Linked DNA regions of Homo sapiens: region 2 is linked to region 1. A link means that fine-mapping ties the variant in region 1 to the expression of a gene that starts in the linked region. Tissue or cell type: whole blood. Region 1 holds a variant in brackets; the other region holds the start of a gene. All regions are shown on one strand. Distances are from middle to middle.

Evidence for each region. PIP is the estimated chance that this variant, and not a neighbour inherited with it, causes the effect.
Region 2: KNDC1 starts here. The variant in region 1 is fine-mapped to the expression of KNDC1 in whole blood (INTERVAL, PIP above 0.99).

What each region holds. Positions count from the first base shown.
Region 1 is chr10:133,129,094-133,137,267 of GRCh38, reverse strand. ADGRA1 (adhesion G protein-coupled receptor A1) reads right to left here. Exons shown (of 7, transcript NM_001083909.3): 7 at 5,593-8,174. The coding sequence ends at 7,757. Among named protein-coding and RNA genes, the nearest start is that of KNDC1, 27 kb to the left of the region's middle. The variant G/C (reference allele first, on the strand shown) is at 3,829.
Region 2 is chr10:133,155,142-133,163,315 of GRCh38, reverse strand. KNDC1 (kinase non-catalytic C-lobe domain containing 1) reads right to left here and starts at 3,097. Exons shown (of 30, transcript NM_152643.8): 1 at 2,747-3,097. The coding sequence starts at 2,848. RefSeq lists enhancers at 1,546-2,136, 2,137-2,726.

The DNA.
Region 1 (8,174 bases):
GGACCCAGAGACCAGAACCCCCCCACAGGGACCCAGAGACCAGCTGCCCCCACAGGTACCCAGAGACCAGACCCCCCCACAGGGACCCAGAGACCCCCCCCACCACAGGGACCCAGAGACCAGATCCCCCCACAGGGACCCAGAGACCAGACCCCCCCACAGGGACCCAGAGACCAGAACCTCTCACAGGGACCCAGAGACCAGTTGCCCCCACAGGGACCCAGAGACCAGAACCCCCCCACAGGGACCCAGAGACCAGACCCCCCAACAGGGACCCAGAGACCAGACCCGCCCACAGGGACCCAGAGACCAGCCGCCTCCACAGGGACCCAGAGACCAGACCCGCCCACAGGGACCCAGAGACCAGACCCCCCCACAGAGACCCAGAGACCAGCCGCCCCCACAGGGACCCAGAGACCAGAACCCCCCACAGGGACCCAGAGACCAGCCGCCCCCCCAGGGACCCAGAGACCAGAACCCCCACAGAGACCCAGAGACCAGACCCCCCAACAGGGACCCAGAGACCAGACCCCCCCACAGGGACCCAGAGATCAGCCGCCCCCACAGGGACCCAGAGACCAGAACCCCCCACAGGGACCCAGAGACCAGCCGCCCCCACAGGGACCCAGAGACCAGGACCCCCCCAAAGGGACCCAGAGACCAGACCCGCCCACAGGGACCCAGAGACCAGAACCCCTACAGGGACCCAGAGACCAGACCCCCCAACAGGGACCCAGAGACCCCCCCCACCACAGGGACCCAGAGACCAGACACCCCCACAGGGACCCAGAGACCAGAACCCCCCCACAGGGACCCAGAGACCAGACCCGCCTACAGGGACCCAGCGACCAGAACCCCTACAGGGACCCAGAGACCAGACCCCCCAACAGGGACCCAGAGACCCCCCCCACCACAGGGACCCAGAGACCAGACACCCCCACAGGGACCCAGAGACCAGCCGCCCCCACAGGGACCCAGAGACCCCCCCCCACCACAGGGACCCAGAGACCAGACCCCCCCCACAGGGACCCAGAGACCAGACCCCCCCAACAGACCCAGAGACCAGACCCGCCCACAGGGACCCAGAGACCAGAACCCCTACAGGGACCCAGAGACCAGCCGCCTCCACAGGGACCCAGAGACCAGACCCCCCCACAGAGACCCAGAGACAAGCCGCCCCCACAGGGACCCAGAGACCAGAACCCCCCCACAGGGACCCAGAGACCAGCTGCCCCCACAGGTACCCAGAGACCAGACCCCCCCACAGGGACCCAGAGACCCCCCCCACCACAGGGACCCAGAGACCAGACCCCCCCACAGGGACCCAGAGACCAGAAACCCCCACAGGGACCCAGAGACCAGCTGCCCCCACAGGGACCCAGAGACCAGAACCCCCCCACAGGGACCCAGAGACCAGACCCACCACAGGGACCCAGAGACCAGCCGCCCCCACAGGGACCCAGAGACCAGACCCCCCAACAGGGACCCAGAGACCCCCCCCACCACAGGGACCCAGAGACCAGCCGCCCCCACAGGGACCCAGAGACCAGACCCCCCAACAGGGACCCAGAGACCCCCCCCCCACCACAGGGACCCAGAGACCAGAACCCCCCCACAGGGACCCAGAGACCAGACCCGCCTACAGGGACCCAGCGACCAGAACCCCTACAGGGACCCAGAGACCAGACCCCCCAACAGGGACCCAGAGACCCCCCCCACCACAGGGACCCAGAGACCAGACACCCCCACAGGGACCCAGAGACCAGCCGCCCCCACAGGGACCCAGAGACCCCCCCCCACCACAGGGACCCAGAGACCAGACCCCCCCCACAGGGACCCAGAGACCAGACCCCCCCAACAGGGACCTGGAGACCAGCTCCCCTATGGTACCAGCCCAGGCTGTCTCACACCCAGGGACCCAGTGGCCCCGAATGAAGTCTGCCGTGTTTTAACAAGCATCATTGAACCATGTTTCCTTTAACACTGCTCACCTGCAGGCCATCGGCCCCACCCCACCGAGGCACTGAAGCCACAGGTGCTGCAGTGGATTCTTTACCCTGGCAGCTCAGCCCACGCCAGCGTCCCGCACTCCCTTGGAGGCAGAGACCCCGGAACTCATTTTAAACAGTGTTTACCAGGAGACACAGACCACAGATACACAGCCCACGTGACACAGGACCTAGTACTCAATTGAGACGACTCAGACCACGAGAACTCAGCCTCCCAAACACACAGAAGAACACACGGGCGCAGCTCCAGCCCACCACATGCAAACGCACCACCACCGCCGCCACCTGGGCACACGGAGGGTGAAATTTCAGCCCATACCAGTGGCACCAAGAAAGTAGCCCAGAAAATGTGTCCTCATCCTACAGCAGCACAGACTGCTACTGTCACCTCGAGTATTTTACCCAGCAACACAGCTCACTATGAATCCAATACGAGCATTAACCCTAACAGGGAGGCACTACGTGCCAGAGTTCCTCACTCCACGAAGACGTGGGCCACGAGTACTCTCCGAACCAGGGCAGAGACATGGGTACTAACCCAGGCTATCCCTCACCAGGGTACTCACTCCACTAGGACCTAGACCAAGGGTACTTTCTGGACCATGACAGAGACATGAGTACTAAACCAGCCAATCCCACACCAGGGGTATTCACCCCTCTAGGACCTGGACTTGGAGTAATCTCTGAGCCAGGGCGCAGACATGGGTACTCACCTGCTTTGTCCCTGGCCGATGTCAGCCCTGCACCACTCTGTGGCTTGTTCAGTGACCCTGTCTGGGAGAGGCTGGGGGGCGGCTGGCAGGGAGGGACTTGAGCTCTGGGTGCCTCTGCTGCCGGTTCTGACCTGCAGGCCTCCCTGAAGGGCTATGTTGGGTGTGGTTGGAGTTGTGAGTAGGGAGCAAGGTGTCTGTTGCGATTACAGGGGAAGTTGTTGATATTTATGTAGAAAAGAAGTAATTAGAGTGAGTTTAAGAGTGTCCTCTTAACAGTGGTTTTCCCAGTACCCACGTCCTGGGATGGGAGTGGGAAGGAAAGGCAGGCCCTGGCAACCCCAGTCATTTCCTGGGACACAGGACAGAGGTGTGAGGTCCAAGTCGGCGCCCACTTGGGCCTGAGCGGTGCTGCTTGTCCTCTGGAAGTCGGCCGCCTGCAGATCTGTGGCCGGGGGGATGCAGCCTGGGGTCTGGGGTCCTGAGTCCTTGCAGGACCGTCTGTGGGCAGCCACGTCTGTGCTCAGGCACTGGCCCTGCAGCCCCCAGGAGGCCTGGACAGCCAGTGTTGGGAGTTGCCCTGGTGGGCCCCAGCTCACCCAGCAGCCCTCCCTCCAGGCCCAGAGGAGCCAGCACGGCGGGCATGAAGGGCTTGTCTTGCTGCTGAGCCCACTTGCAGCCTGACCTGTCTCACTGGGAGACACTGATCTTCTAGCTGTGGCCCGAGGGACAGGCCTCTCACGTGTGCCAGGCCCTCCTATGCCCCTCCTGCTCCGCCTGCCCTGAACAACCACAGCACTCAGATGCCTGCTCAGACTTGGCCCCAGGGACCCTCCGAATTGGCTTCTCTGTCCCTGTGCCCAGTAGCCTCCCCAGATGCCCACCAGGCCCCGCCTCCACCCCACCGTTGACCTGGCCTCACAGCACTTTGTCTGTCCTCACGGGGTGCTCACCCTTTCCCTCCCCCTACCCCGTCCCCTGCCTCCCTGGGCACACGCTGCCCCTGCAGACACAGGGCCGGCCTCCATCTGCCCAAGGTACCCCCACCCCACCCACCTCAAAGGCTACAGAACAGTCCTTGGTCTTGAATACAACAGGCAGAATTTCTG[G/C]CCGAAGGTGCCTGTGCAGTAAAGGCTCTGCAGAAGCCTCTAGGCTCAGGTACAAACCCTGGCAGTGCAGTGGAAGGGAAGCGTGATGAAGTGAGACACAGAGGAGCAGGATCCACGTGAGACACGGAGGAGCAGGGTCCACGTGAGACACGGAGGAGCAGGGTCCACGTGAGACACGGAGGAGCAGGGTCCACGTGAGACGTGGAGGAGCAGGGTCCACAGTCCCCGCACAGTGAACACACCCACTGTTCCAGCTCAGGCCAATGCTGGTCCCGACAGCGTCCCCCGAGAAATGCAAGCACCAAGGGTCAGGGAGCAAGTGGCAGGACCGGTCAGGCACCATCTGGGCACTGGGTAGGTGTGGAAGTGCCCGTTGCAGCCAGTCTCTGCACATGGGGGGCATTCACCACATCAGTGCAGGGCCCTGAGCTCCTTCCAGGGTCCCTAGACAGGCTTCCTGCAGCTGCTGTCACTGATGGGCGACACTGCAGCCTAGCGTGTGGCTGCTGAGCTGCCTTCTGCCAAGGCCCTCCCAGGGGCCCAGTGCTCCCATTCAGCCTGCATCCCTCCTCAGTCCTGCTCAGGCAGGTGGAACGTGCGGGCCCCAACCCAGCCCCTTCCCCGCAGAACCAGTGGGGGCTCCTCAGCTGCCCAAAGCCCCTGCAGGGGTGGCTCATTCAGAGACAGAGCAGGCCGACCAGATCTGAGCCCTGTCTGGGGCCTTCGTGGGCGACGCGGCAGATGCCACTGTGTGTCTCCCAGGACTGGAGGCCTCCTCAGCTAGGACTGCTCCAGAGAAGAACTGTCAGGGTCTGGAGGCACAGGCAGCTTCTGCTTCCTAGTCCTTTAAGCTGACTAAAGTCACCACAGTGTTGCCGTGTGGTAGTTACACACCCGCACGGAGACAGGGCGGAGGGGCCGCCTCACAGTGTTCCTCCAAAGAGCATGCACACACATGCACACTTACCCTCAAGCACACGTGCATGTGTGCACACAACTCCCACAGAGGGACCTACACACCACACAGGCGCACACTCTCACACACTAACACGTCAACACCCACACAACCCACAAGCCACTCACAAACACACAGGCACACAGGCAAGCACACTCACACAGGCCAGCATACACGCACACTCCATCGCATCCGACACGCAGGCACACGGACTCACACACACACAGGCACACAGGCACACTCGCACAGGCCAGCATGCACGCACACTCCATTGCATCCGACACACAGGCACACGGGCAAGCACGCTCACACAGGCCGGCATGCACGCACGCTCCATTGCATCCGACACGCAGGCACACGGGCACACTCGCACAGGCCGGCATACACCCACGCTCCAGTGCGTCTGACACGCAGGCACACGGGCAAGCACACTCACACAGGCCGGCATGCACCCACGCTCCATTGCATCCAACACGCAGGCACAGGGGCACACTCGCACAGGCCGGCATGCACCCACGCTCCAGCACGTCTGACACGGAGGCACACAGGCAAGCACACTCACACAGGCTGGCATGCACCCACGCTCCGTTGCATCCGACATGCAGACACACGGGCACACACAAGGAAGGAAGTGGCACGAAAGTCAGGTGCGGAACGCAGGGTCTGGCTCTGGCTTCATGGTCTGGTGGAAGCTGACTCCGAGCCAGGAGCCCCTCAGGGTGGTTGGGCTGTGGATGTTTATGCTCCAAAACGTTACGTGCAATTGGATATGGCCCAACACCAGTCCCAAGTGGACTCATGAGGCTAAGTCAGTATAGAAACACACAGAGGTTTAATGTTCAATGTTGACTTTCTTTGGTTGAATGGTGGGACGCCTCTCTGCTCAGCCGGGGGCACTGAGGGTGGAAAGTTCATGAGGGGCTGCAGGGGCCAGGGAGAGCAGCCCTGCCCCAGGATCCAGGACACAGACGGGGGCCACACATTCAGGTGCCCCTCTACCCCATCGAGGGTGAGAAAAACACACGGGGATGCTATTAACCAGCCTCACAAAGAACAAACAATGCCAAGACTGTATTTTTGTGTGGACGGTTCTGCACCTACAGTGCGTACACAGCACAGCGTGGGGATTCGGGTTCACATCAGCTATGGAAGCAGGTGAGAAGGTGAGGCAGAGGCAGAGCCACCTGGTGGTCCTCCGACGGCCCGTCTGGTCGACCTGTAAGGACACACGGGGTTTGCTGGGAGGAGCACGCTGTGGGTTACTGAGTCACGGTCAAGTTTACCGACACCCCGGGAAGTGAGGCTCCTCATACTCAGATACTGAGTGCCAGTCTCCGGAGAGCCCTTCCACCGAGCAGGTGCTGGGAACACTCCCCGACACCCCTCTTCTCGGAGGTGCACGTTAGGGAGGCTCTGCTCCTGGTGAGACCTCCCAACCGGATAGCACAGCGCACCGACGAGTCTGCTGACGTTGACGTTTGCAGGGTGAAACAATCTCCAATGCAAACCCAGTGTGTGGGTGGCTGGAAAACACACTACTACGTGTGTGTGCACATGTGCACAGCAGGTGCAAGTGTGTGTTAAGTATGTGTGCACGTGTGTTTGTGTGTGATATGCACGTGTTTGTGTGTGTGCGTGTGTGTGATATGCACGTGTTTGGGTGTGTGTGCGTGTGTGTGATATGCACGTTTGTGTGCATGTGTGTGATATGCACGTGTTTGTGTGTGTGCATGTGTGTGATATGCACGTGTTTGGGTGTGTGCGCGTGTGTGATATGCACATGTGTTTGTGTGTGTGCATGTGTGTGATATGCACATGTGTTTGTGTGTGTGTGTGTGGGTGCACATGTGTCACAGACAAGGAGGAAGAGGGAGGGAGGGAAAGCTGTGCACAGTTTCACACCCATGACCCTCTGGACTCCCTCCCACCTAGGGACGGGCCACTTGCTTTCACAGAAGTCTTGCTGTCATCCACATCTGTCCTTTGAGTCAGGGCTTGGTACCCAGATGTTCATGGAGACGAGAAAAAGGGAAAGGGATTTTGTCCATGAGAATCTCCCGTCTGTCAGCCCCTTTTCTTTTTGGAATAAACCTTCGTGTTGCTAAGTGCCTATACTGGAGTGGAATCCAGTCCCAGCGGTGGCTGGTTTTGGAAGTCGAGTCTTCACTAAAGGATGTCTGGGCATTTTCCCAAGCCTTGGGCCCGTGAAAGCCCCCCATTGGCCCTCTGAGGCTGACAGCCATCCCCAAAGTCCAGAGCAGCCCCCAGCATCTGTGGTGCTCTCAGCCCTGCAGGGCTGGGGCTACGACAAGGACAGGGCTGACAGGGCACACTGAGTGGGCAGAGGTGTGCAGGGGCCCTGTGAAGCTGCAGGGGTGGCTCAGACACACGACAGCGGAGGGTCCCGAGGGTTCTGCCCAGAGCGAGAATGCTGGGGACAGACCTGCCGCCGCCACCCCCGGAGTAGAACGCAAGACACACACATTGAACACTGGGAAAGGTCAGGGCAGCCCCCTCCTGCGATCTCGGCCCTGCCCGGCCACACCAGGGGAAGCCAGGACTCCGTGGGCAGCAGGGCATCTCGGGCAGGGCCATGCTGGGGTCTCAGTGGGTCCTTTGATGGAATCCCCTGCTCTGCCTCTAGGGTGCCCCAGGACTGGAGACCACAGGACAGAAACCGGATGACCGTGTGCGGGACCAGCACGCGGAATTGGGATAAGGGGAGTGGGCGTGGCCCGGAGCGTTTCCCCGCTGAGGTCTTTCACAAGGAAGGGGCAGGGGTGTGATCACAAGGAAGGGGCAGGGGTGTGATCACAAGGAAGGGGCAGGGGTGTGATCACAAGGAAGGGGCAGGGGTGTGAACGGCTTCTGAAAGGCGGGGTCACTTCGGTACCCCCAGTGACCTCATGTGGCAGATGGGCCCCCCACTCTGCTCTGAAGCTCCTCCAGGAACACCGTGTCCTCTGCCCCCATCTACACAGTAGTTTCGTTTTTCCAGGGTCCCGTTCGGATGTTGCCGGTCCCGTCGGTGCCAAACGGCAGGCCTTCTAGCAATTTACCCTTGGGCAGCCCGTTCTGGCTGGGGCCACCAAAGGGCAGGGACTGTGTCCTCCGCAGCATCTCCAAGTGGCCGGGCCCGAGCGCTGCCTCCCTGCCCGGCTGCGTGGGGCAGCTGTAGAGGGCAGGGCTCCCATCACTGCCCTCGGGCTGGGTGACCATGGGGAAGGGGTCGCCCTGGGTGCAGCAGGCCAGCGTGTGTGTCCCCGCCGGGCCATCCAGAGAGCTGGGGGGGCTGTCTGTGCGCGAGCTGCGGGGGCTGCCATCCAGGCTGGATGGGATGTGGTAGGCGTACTCGGGCTCCTCTGCTGGGTGCCGGCTAAAGTAGGGCGGC
Region 2 (8,174 bases), 26 kb before region 1:
CTGGGAGGCAGTTGCTGAACTCTGGGAGGGATGATAGTGCTGCCTGCCTCTCAGGGACCCGGGACACGTCCTGCTCTGGCACCCAAACCGGTGCACCCTCTTCGTCTCATCTGAATTCCCATGGGGCAGCCAGCATTGCCCATCCATCGACTCCAGCCGCCTGGACTGTGTGCCTCTTCTGCAGCCGCTGTTCTGCCTGGATTGCACTGTTCTGCCTCAGATCCCATACCCCCATCCACAGTGACTGAAATCTCATGGGAATCCCGGGCAGGACACCTCCAGGAAGCCCTCCTTGCATCACCCCCACAGAACATCTCCCTGTCTATCGTGTACTGGTGGTTCTTTGCCTGTACTGGGATCCAACCTGGTCACTTCCTCCAGGACCTGCTGGCCCACTTGCTGATGCTCTGGTAGGTTCCAGCTGAGAGTGTTCTCACACACGCACGGCCACGTGTCTCTGGGGCCCACACCATAGTGAAGTTGCTGGGACACAGGGCACTGGTGCCTTCTACTTCACCAGCGAATGCTGGGCTGTTTTCCAAAGAGGCTGCTCCATTTGTCCTCCCACTGGCGCGAGGGAGAGCTGCTGCGCCGTCCTTGCCAGCACAAGCCGCTGTCCGCTCTTCAGTTCTTGCCAGCCTGGCGGTCTTGGGAAGGCATTCGTGGGGGTGTATTTTGCATTTTCCTGATTGCAATGAGCAAACATCTTTTCACATGTTCAGCAGCCATTTGGATTTTCTTTGGGACCATGTCAAGGGAGGGACATTCCAGGGGCTCCGGTGGGTGTCCATAGGGGTCTATTTCTTGACCCCATCATGGAGCCAGCCATTATAATTAGCTGTAGAATGAGTGAGTTCCTACATCTTATGAAGCCTGCATATGTCCTGGGCCTGGCGCCACCGTGCTTTCCCGGCAGCTGCCCTGCACCCTTGGCCTTCCGGCATTCTGGGATGATGATGCAACCTCACCGTGCCCTCACCTCACCCAGGACGGTTTTCCCATGCAAGTCAGGTGCCCCGATGGAGATTTCAGAACCTTCCAAGCCAAACACGTGTGGGAAGCAGAGTCTGAACGCCAGGGGAATTCTGAGACATGGGGTGTGTTGGGCTCAGTACTGGGCACAGGGTTGGGCCAGGGACCACCCGATGCTTTCCAGGAGTGTCTGCGAAGGGCCCACCTGAACGTTCCCACTGCACGCTGCAAACTCGGTGGGATGACAGTTCACCTGGAGGCCTTGGTGGACGTCACAGGATGGAGCCACCCACCCCAGTACTGTGCCGGCCGGGAGCTGTCCGGCCGGCCCGAGGACACTGGTGTGTGCGTGGGGGTGGGGAGCGGGAGTGGGGAGTGTGCAGAAAGACAGCCTGTGGCTCCAAGTGGGCTCGCGCCTGGCGCGGCGTGTTGTGTGCGTGGCACCGGCTGCTGCCTCCGTGTGCGGAGCGGGGAGGCCCTCAAGGCTCAGGCCTCTGATGCACGAAGGAGCTGTGGGAAGAGCTGCGTCCTCAGGGCCGCCTCCTAACAGATACCCTGGGATGTGTCCTGGGGCGTTTCTGAAGGCTGCGGGCTGCCCCTCCCTCTCGGTCAGAGCCGAGGTGATCTTGGAAGCTTTATTGCCTCCCCTGGCTGCTCCTCTCTGCAGCCTTCAACTGCACCGAATCCAGGCCATGGTGGGGGCGGGGGCATCGCCAACCCCCGCACAGCCTCAGCTGTTTCTAGGTGGCTGGGCCGAGGGCCTCCTGGGGCTGAACCTTCCCAGAAGGACGGTGCTTCCACAGCAGAAACTCCCGGTCCCTTCAGAGCCCACTCCCCTGGGGCAGCAGGTGGGGACTGCGAGGGGGTCAGGCCCGCGGCTGCTGCAGCCGGGATTCCCTGCTCCAGGCTTACTTGGCCGGCTTTAAAGAGAGGGCGCCACAACATCCCACTAATGGCTGCAGGTGACGACGCTGTCACCCGGAGACGCAGGCGCCCAGCGTCTGGGCTCTTGCCTGTTGGAGGTTTGGCAGATCTCGGATCCCTGGAGGGTGAGGGTCCCTCTGGGAGCTGCTGTATCCCCTGGGGGCCACCTCTCATGCTTCCGGGCCTGGCTTGTCCACTCCATCCCAGCCAAGCCAGAGCTGAGCTACAGGGTCAGACCCAGCCAAGGTGGCGTCTGGGCAGCCGGTGCTGTAGGGTGGGCGGTCCATGAGCAGAAGCGCCAGGGTATGCAGATGGCAGGCAGAGCCCCTCTGCACCTTGCGGGGTAGGGGGGTCTTGGGTGAAGGCCCGGAAAACCAGAGAGCAGGAAGCAGCTCTCAGTCTCGGGGGGCAGTCATCCAGCGCTCCCCCCACCCCCCGCTCCTGAACCTCAGCTCCGGGGACCTCATCCCCCAGCTCCTGAGCGGCGCCTGATTGGACTCTGCTGCTCTGCACCCCGCTGGCCTCCTGGGGCCCGGCAGGGAGTAAGCAGACCCCCCTCCGTCCTCCTTGCTGCCCCCACACTGTCCCGCCAGGGTTTCCACCAGGAGCTACCGCGCACCAACTTCTGCAGGGGCTGCCCACCCGCCGCCGTCCCGTGCGCATTCGGGGGTGCTGTCCCCTCCGGGTGAAAATCCTAACGCGGGGGCTGAGAACGGCGGTGGGAACCCCTCGGCCATGGAGGGCGCCTGGGGAGGCGGGAGCTCACAGCCCCTCCCGGGTCCTCCCCCCGGGCGCTCTCCGCGGACCCCTCGGCGGCGGAAGGGGCCCCCCAGTGGGGCCGGGGGCTCACCTCGTCCTCGGGGAGGGTGGGCAGCGGCTCGAAGTCGTAGAAGTCCAGGTCTTTGCCGTCCTCCTCGTAAAGATCCGCCGCGGCCGGGTCCATGGCCTGCATCCTGCGGCCGCGCCGCGCACCGCCCCCGGGGCCTCCGGCTGGGCTGGGCTGGGCTCGGCTACGCGCGCCCTGGCTCCATGGAGACGCGCCCGGCCCTCGCCCGCCCCCGCCCGCCCGCCGCTGCCGCAGTGTCTCCAGGGGACGCGGTCAGGGATACGGGGCGGGCCCGGGGGGCGCGGGGGGCGCGGGGTGCGCGGGGGCTGCGCGGCGCTGTCCGGACCCGGCGCCTAGGGAACGTCGCTCCTTCCTGGGGGAGGCACCGGGGGCGGAGCCAGGCGTGTGGCCTCCGCGGGGAGCCACGGGGTCTGCGCCCCACCTGGGCCCCAAGGGTCGAGGGGCGGAGCCGGCGCCCAGGAAAGCTCGGACGGGCAGACCCCCTCGCCGGCTCCCGCCGCCCCCGTCCCACCCCCGCTGCTGCCGGGCGGGGCTGCCGCAGTCCCGGGGTGGCCTCTGCAGCGGCGTTGGGCAGGGCCGGGCGGGGCCCGGGGTGGGGGGCGGGGCCCGGGGTGGGGGGCGGGGCGGTCGCTGGGCCGGGGTCTCTCCTGAGCGAGGGTCTTTCGGAGGCCCGGGGATGTTGGGGGTGGGGCAATAACGCTGCCTCATCCCCACCTGGAGGCATCGGAGAGACCCACTGGGCACCCGACCCTCCCCGGTCCTGGGGGACCCTGGGGGGTCCTGGGGCTCTTGACCTCTTCCTGCCCCAAAGGCCCCCCGGGGCTTTCTTCAGCGCCAGGGTGACCCCGGCCCACGGTAGTGCCGCGGTCAGAAGAGCCAGGATAGCCCCAAGCTCGGCCAAGAGGCAGGGAGGGTGGAGGAGAATCTCACCTTCCCCGGCCACCCCCAGAACTCCCACAGGAGAGAGGGCGGCTTCAGGGCCCGGCTGTCAGCTCCCCGTCCGTGTGGCTGGCCAGGCACACAGTAGGTACTTAATCCATGCTCCTGGCTTGAAGGAGCAGCAGGGCTTTTGACCGCAGAGTGGGAGGGTGCAGTGTGTTCAGGGACGTGAATTCCCAGCACTCTGTCCCCTGGTCGGTCACCCGGGCTGTCACTCTGGCCTGGCAGGGAGTTCAGGGGCTCAGCTCCCCGGGAGCCAGGTGGGCACTGAAGCCGGAGGCTGGGAGTGGGGCAGGTGCTGGGCAGACTCCCTGCGTCCAGCCAGGCAGCCCCACCTTATTGAAAATGCCCACCCTGGGGCCCACCCTGGTCCACCGAGTCAGCAGTCAGGTGCAGCCTCCCCCATCCTTGGGTGTTTGGAAGCTTGGGCAGCAAGCCAAGGTGGAGTGGGCTGGAGCTGGAGAGGAGGAGTCTCACAGAGGGTGGCCTCAGCCAGCTGTCCCTGAGCTCTCTCTCTGTGGGCCCCACAGGGCCTGCAGCGCCCCAGTCCCTGTCTTGGAAGGAGGCGGAAGTGGCAGGCAGACTCTGCTCCAGGAGCCTGATCCCGCTGCACCCTGGTGCTCAGACCTGGACATTGGAGCTGAGCCCCTGGGCTCCTGGGCCCTCTGCTGCAGGGCTGGGGCCGCCTCCTTTGTCAGGTCTGGATGTGCCCCTGACGCCTCTCAGCTGCCACCCAGACTTGTGCCTCCGGGGGAACGCCGGGCTGACGTGACCCCAAAGGGAAGGCACCAGGGACCCCACAAGCACAGGACTTTGTCACCGAGTGCCCAGGTCACCTCACGGGCTTGGGGTGAGGATATAGACACTGAATAGGGGGCAAAGGTAACCCCATAATTTGGGGGGCAGCCATAGGGCAAGCACTCCTGGAAAGACGTGCATGCGGTTGGTAAAATGCAGAACTCACAGGCTCCTGGAGTCGGCCGTGTCAGCTTCGGCTGTTGCGGCCTAAAACCCCTCAGCAGGCATTTCCCACACCTGGGTCACTCAGCGCTGCTGCTGCTCAGGGCTGGGCACGTGGGGAGGGGCCTCGGGCAGGGGCCGCAGGCTCTTTCTTTTACGCACCTGCTGCTTTCCTTTAAAGATTTGTGGGCTTTGGTCTCTGTTGTTCTGGGGAGTGGTGGGAACTTCCAGACGTTTTGCGAGTTGTCCCGGGCGCCCGCACACTCGCCTGCAGTGATAAAGCTTTGACCCAAGTGGAGGGTGCGATGTCGGTCCTGTGTCCTGGCACCTCAGTTATGCTGGACGAGGGCGCAGTTCCTCCAGGGTCTGGATTCATCGCCCCACGTCTTCTAGAGCTGGTGAGCAGCTTCTGGGTGCCACGCGGAAACGGCCAAGAGCCCTCCGTGAGCCACAAGGAACGGCCTCCTCATCAAGCCCTCCTGCCTCTCGGTGCCAGCCCTGTGTGCCCAGCATGTGCTGGCACAGCTTCCTCCCGAGGATGCTTGTGGTGGTGTCGGAATTCTGAGGGGCTTCCCAGCTGCACGATCAGGTCCGTGGTCCAGGGCCATGACTTGGTGGCACTTTCGTCCTCTTCCAACTCTTCCATGGCCTCTACCCATCCTCTGCCCCACCCCACTGCCCTTTCCCACCAGACGTTCCCCTCTGCTAGAGGCAACAGCCTGAACTGTGGCTCCTGGCTGGAGTGAGGAACCTGGTTCCTCCCTCCCTGCCCAGGCCCTGCCCACCCTCCCTCCTCCATGAGGGGCCCAGGGTAGGACTCCCAGATGCTTCTCCTGAGACCTTGCTCCGAGGGGGTTACCGGGCCCTTGTCACACCCGGACGCTGTCAGGATCGGCCTTGTCCTTCTCACTCGGTCTCCCACAGTCGGCGCTCAGCTGGACTGGGCTGCGTGCTGAGGCGGGTGGAGCAGGGGTCTTCAGGGCCTTGGCTCTCGTTTTCCCTAAAACAATTTTGAAAAGCTGCCAAATCACTCACACATGTTGACGTCAACATCCAGGTTTCTTAAAAAATCCAGACATGTAAATGATGGCAAATAATGTCATTTCTGGTGTGATGTAAATACTCACATTTTGAAGTAAAATTGTTAGTCACTCCTGTAAATGTATCTAGGAAGCTAAATGCCAAAATGGTTTTGATACCTACTGTCAGTCGTTTAAAGAATTCGTAAACACATTCTTCTCTAACAGTCCGAGATCTTCGTGCTGACATTTTTCCTCAGACGCATCATAGCCATCTGGTTTTTGCCCAGATTGTATCTGACGATGAATTATTTTTATGCCCGAGTTTCTGTTGGCTCCTCATCACACTTTGCAACAAATACACATGTAAATTTTAATAAATCAGATATTTAGTAAAGAAAAAAAGGAAATGTGGAAGTAAATGGCGGTGCTCCTGTTAGAGATTGGGAGCCGGCACGCGGGAACCGTGGACCACGACTGGCTTCTGCGGGGAGCTGCCCTGTGGCTCTGGCGGAAACACGGTCTCCTCACTTTGTCTCTGGGCGCTGGGCTGGCCCTGTCCTGCCAGGCTCACCCCACGGGGGAACCAATGCGGCTGGGAGCAGACGGAACCCCCGTCCCTCTGTGCGTGTGTGTATTTGTGTGTATATGTGTGCGTATGTGTGGGTATTTCTGTGTCTGTATGTGTATGTGTATTTGTGTGGATGTGTGTGTATATTTGTGTGTGTATGTGTGTATGTGTATTTGTGTGTGTATTTGTGTATGTGTGTGTATTTCTGTGTCTGTGTGTATGTGTATGTGTATTTGTGTGTATGTGTGTGTATTTGTGTGTATGTGTGTGTATTTGTGTATTTGTGTGTATTTGTGTATGTGTGTGTATTTGTGTGTGTATTCGTGTGTGTGTATTTGTGTATGTGTGTGTATTTGTGTCTATGTGTGTGTATTTGTGTGTGTGTTTATTTGTGTGTGTGTATGTGTGTGTGTATTTGTGTGTGTGTGCGTGCATTTTTCCTCAGTGTCTCTGAGATTCAACCATGTTGTTATGGGTAGTAGTAATTTATTGATTATTGTTACTGAATTGTATTAAATTACATCAATACCCCACAGTGGAGGTTCTCTTTCCAACGACGTCAATACCCCACAGTGGAGATTCTCTTTCCAACGACGTCAATACGCCACAGTGGAGGTTCTCTTTCCAATGACGTCAATACCCCACAGTGGAGGTTCTCTTTCCAATGACGTCAATACCCCACAGTGGAGGTTCTCTTTCCAACGACATCAATACCCCACAGTTGAGGTTCTCTTTCCAATTACGTCAATACCCCACAGTGGAGGTTCTCTTTCCAACGACATCAATACCCCACAGTTGAGGTTCTCTTTCCAACGACGTCAATACCCCACAGTTGAGGTTCTCTTTCCAACGACGTCAATACCCCACAGTTGAGGTTCTCTTTCCAATGATGGCAATACTCCACAGTTGAGGTTCTCTTTCCAATGACATCAATACTCCACAGTTGAGGCTCTCTTTCCAATGACGTCAATACCCCACAATTGAGGTTCTCTTTCCAACGACGTCAATACCCCACAGTGGAGGTTCTCTTTCCAACGACGTCAATACCCCACAGTGGAGGTTCTCTTTCCAACGACGTCAATACCCCACAGTGGAGGTTCTCTTTCCAACGACGTCAATACCCCACAGTGGAGGTTCTCTTTCCAACGACGTCAATACCCCACAGTGGAGGTTCTCTTTCCAACGACGTCAATACCCCACAGTGGAGGTTCTCTTTCCAACGACGTCAATACCCCACAGTGGAGGTTCTCTTTCCAACGACGTCAATACCCCACAGTGGAGGTTCTCTTTCCAACGACGTCAATACCCCACAGTGGAGGTTCTCTTTCCAACGACGTCAATACCCCACAGTGGAGGTTCTCTTTCCAACGACGTCAATACCCCACAGTGGAGGTTCTCTTTCCAACGACGTCAATACCCCACAGTTGAGGTTCTCTTTCAAATGACGTCAATACCCCACAGTTGAGGTTCTCTTTCCAATGACGTCAATACTCCACAGTTGAGGCTCTCTTTCCAATGACGTCAATACCCCACAGTTGAGGTTCTCTTTCCAACGACGTCAATACCCCACAGTGGAGGTTCTCTTTCTGCGCTGGTGGGCACTCAGGTGGCTTCTACAATTTGCAGCCTTAGGAACGAAGCTACGGGGGCATCTTTTCTTCAGGTGCCTGTGTTTCTGTTTGGCCTATCTTTAGAGTGGAGTTGCCGGGTCTTAGGTTATGCATGTATGAAGTTCCTGTTTTCCCCGCACTGGCGATGGCCGGGCACGGGGGCGGGTGTTGGGAAGGTGCCCTTCACCCTCCGTTTTGCCAGCCTGGCTTCTGCTGGGTCGAATGTGCCCGGGTGTGAGTCTGTTTCTAGACTCTATCCTTTCCCATCGGTCTGTCAGTTCTGCAACAGCCACAGAAGTCTCCACACAGAACCCACCCTTGCCTCTTCCCCC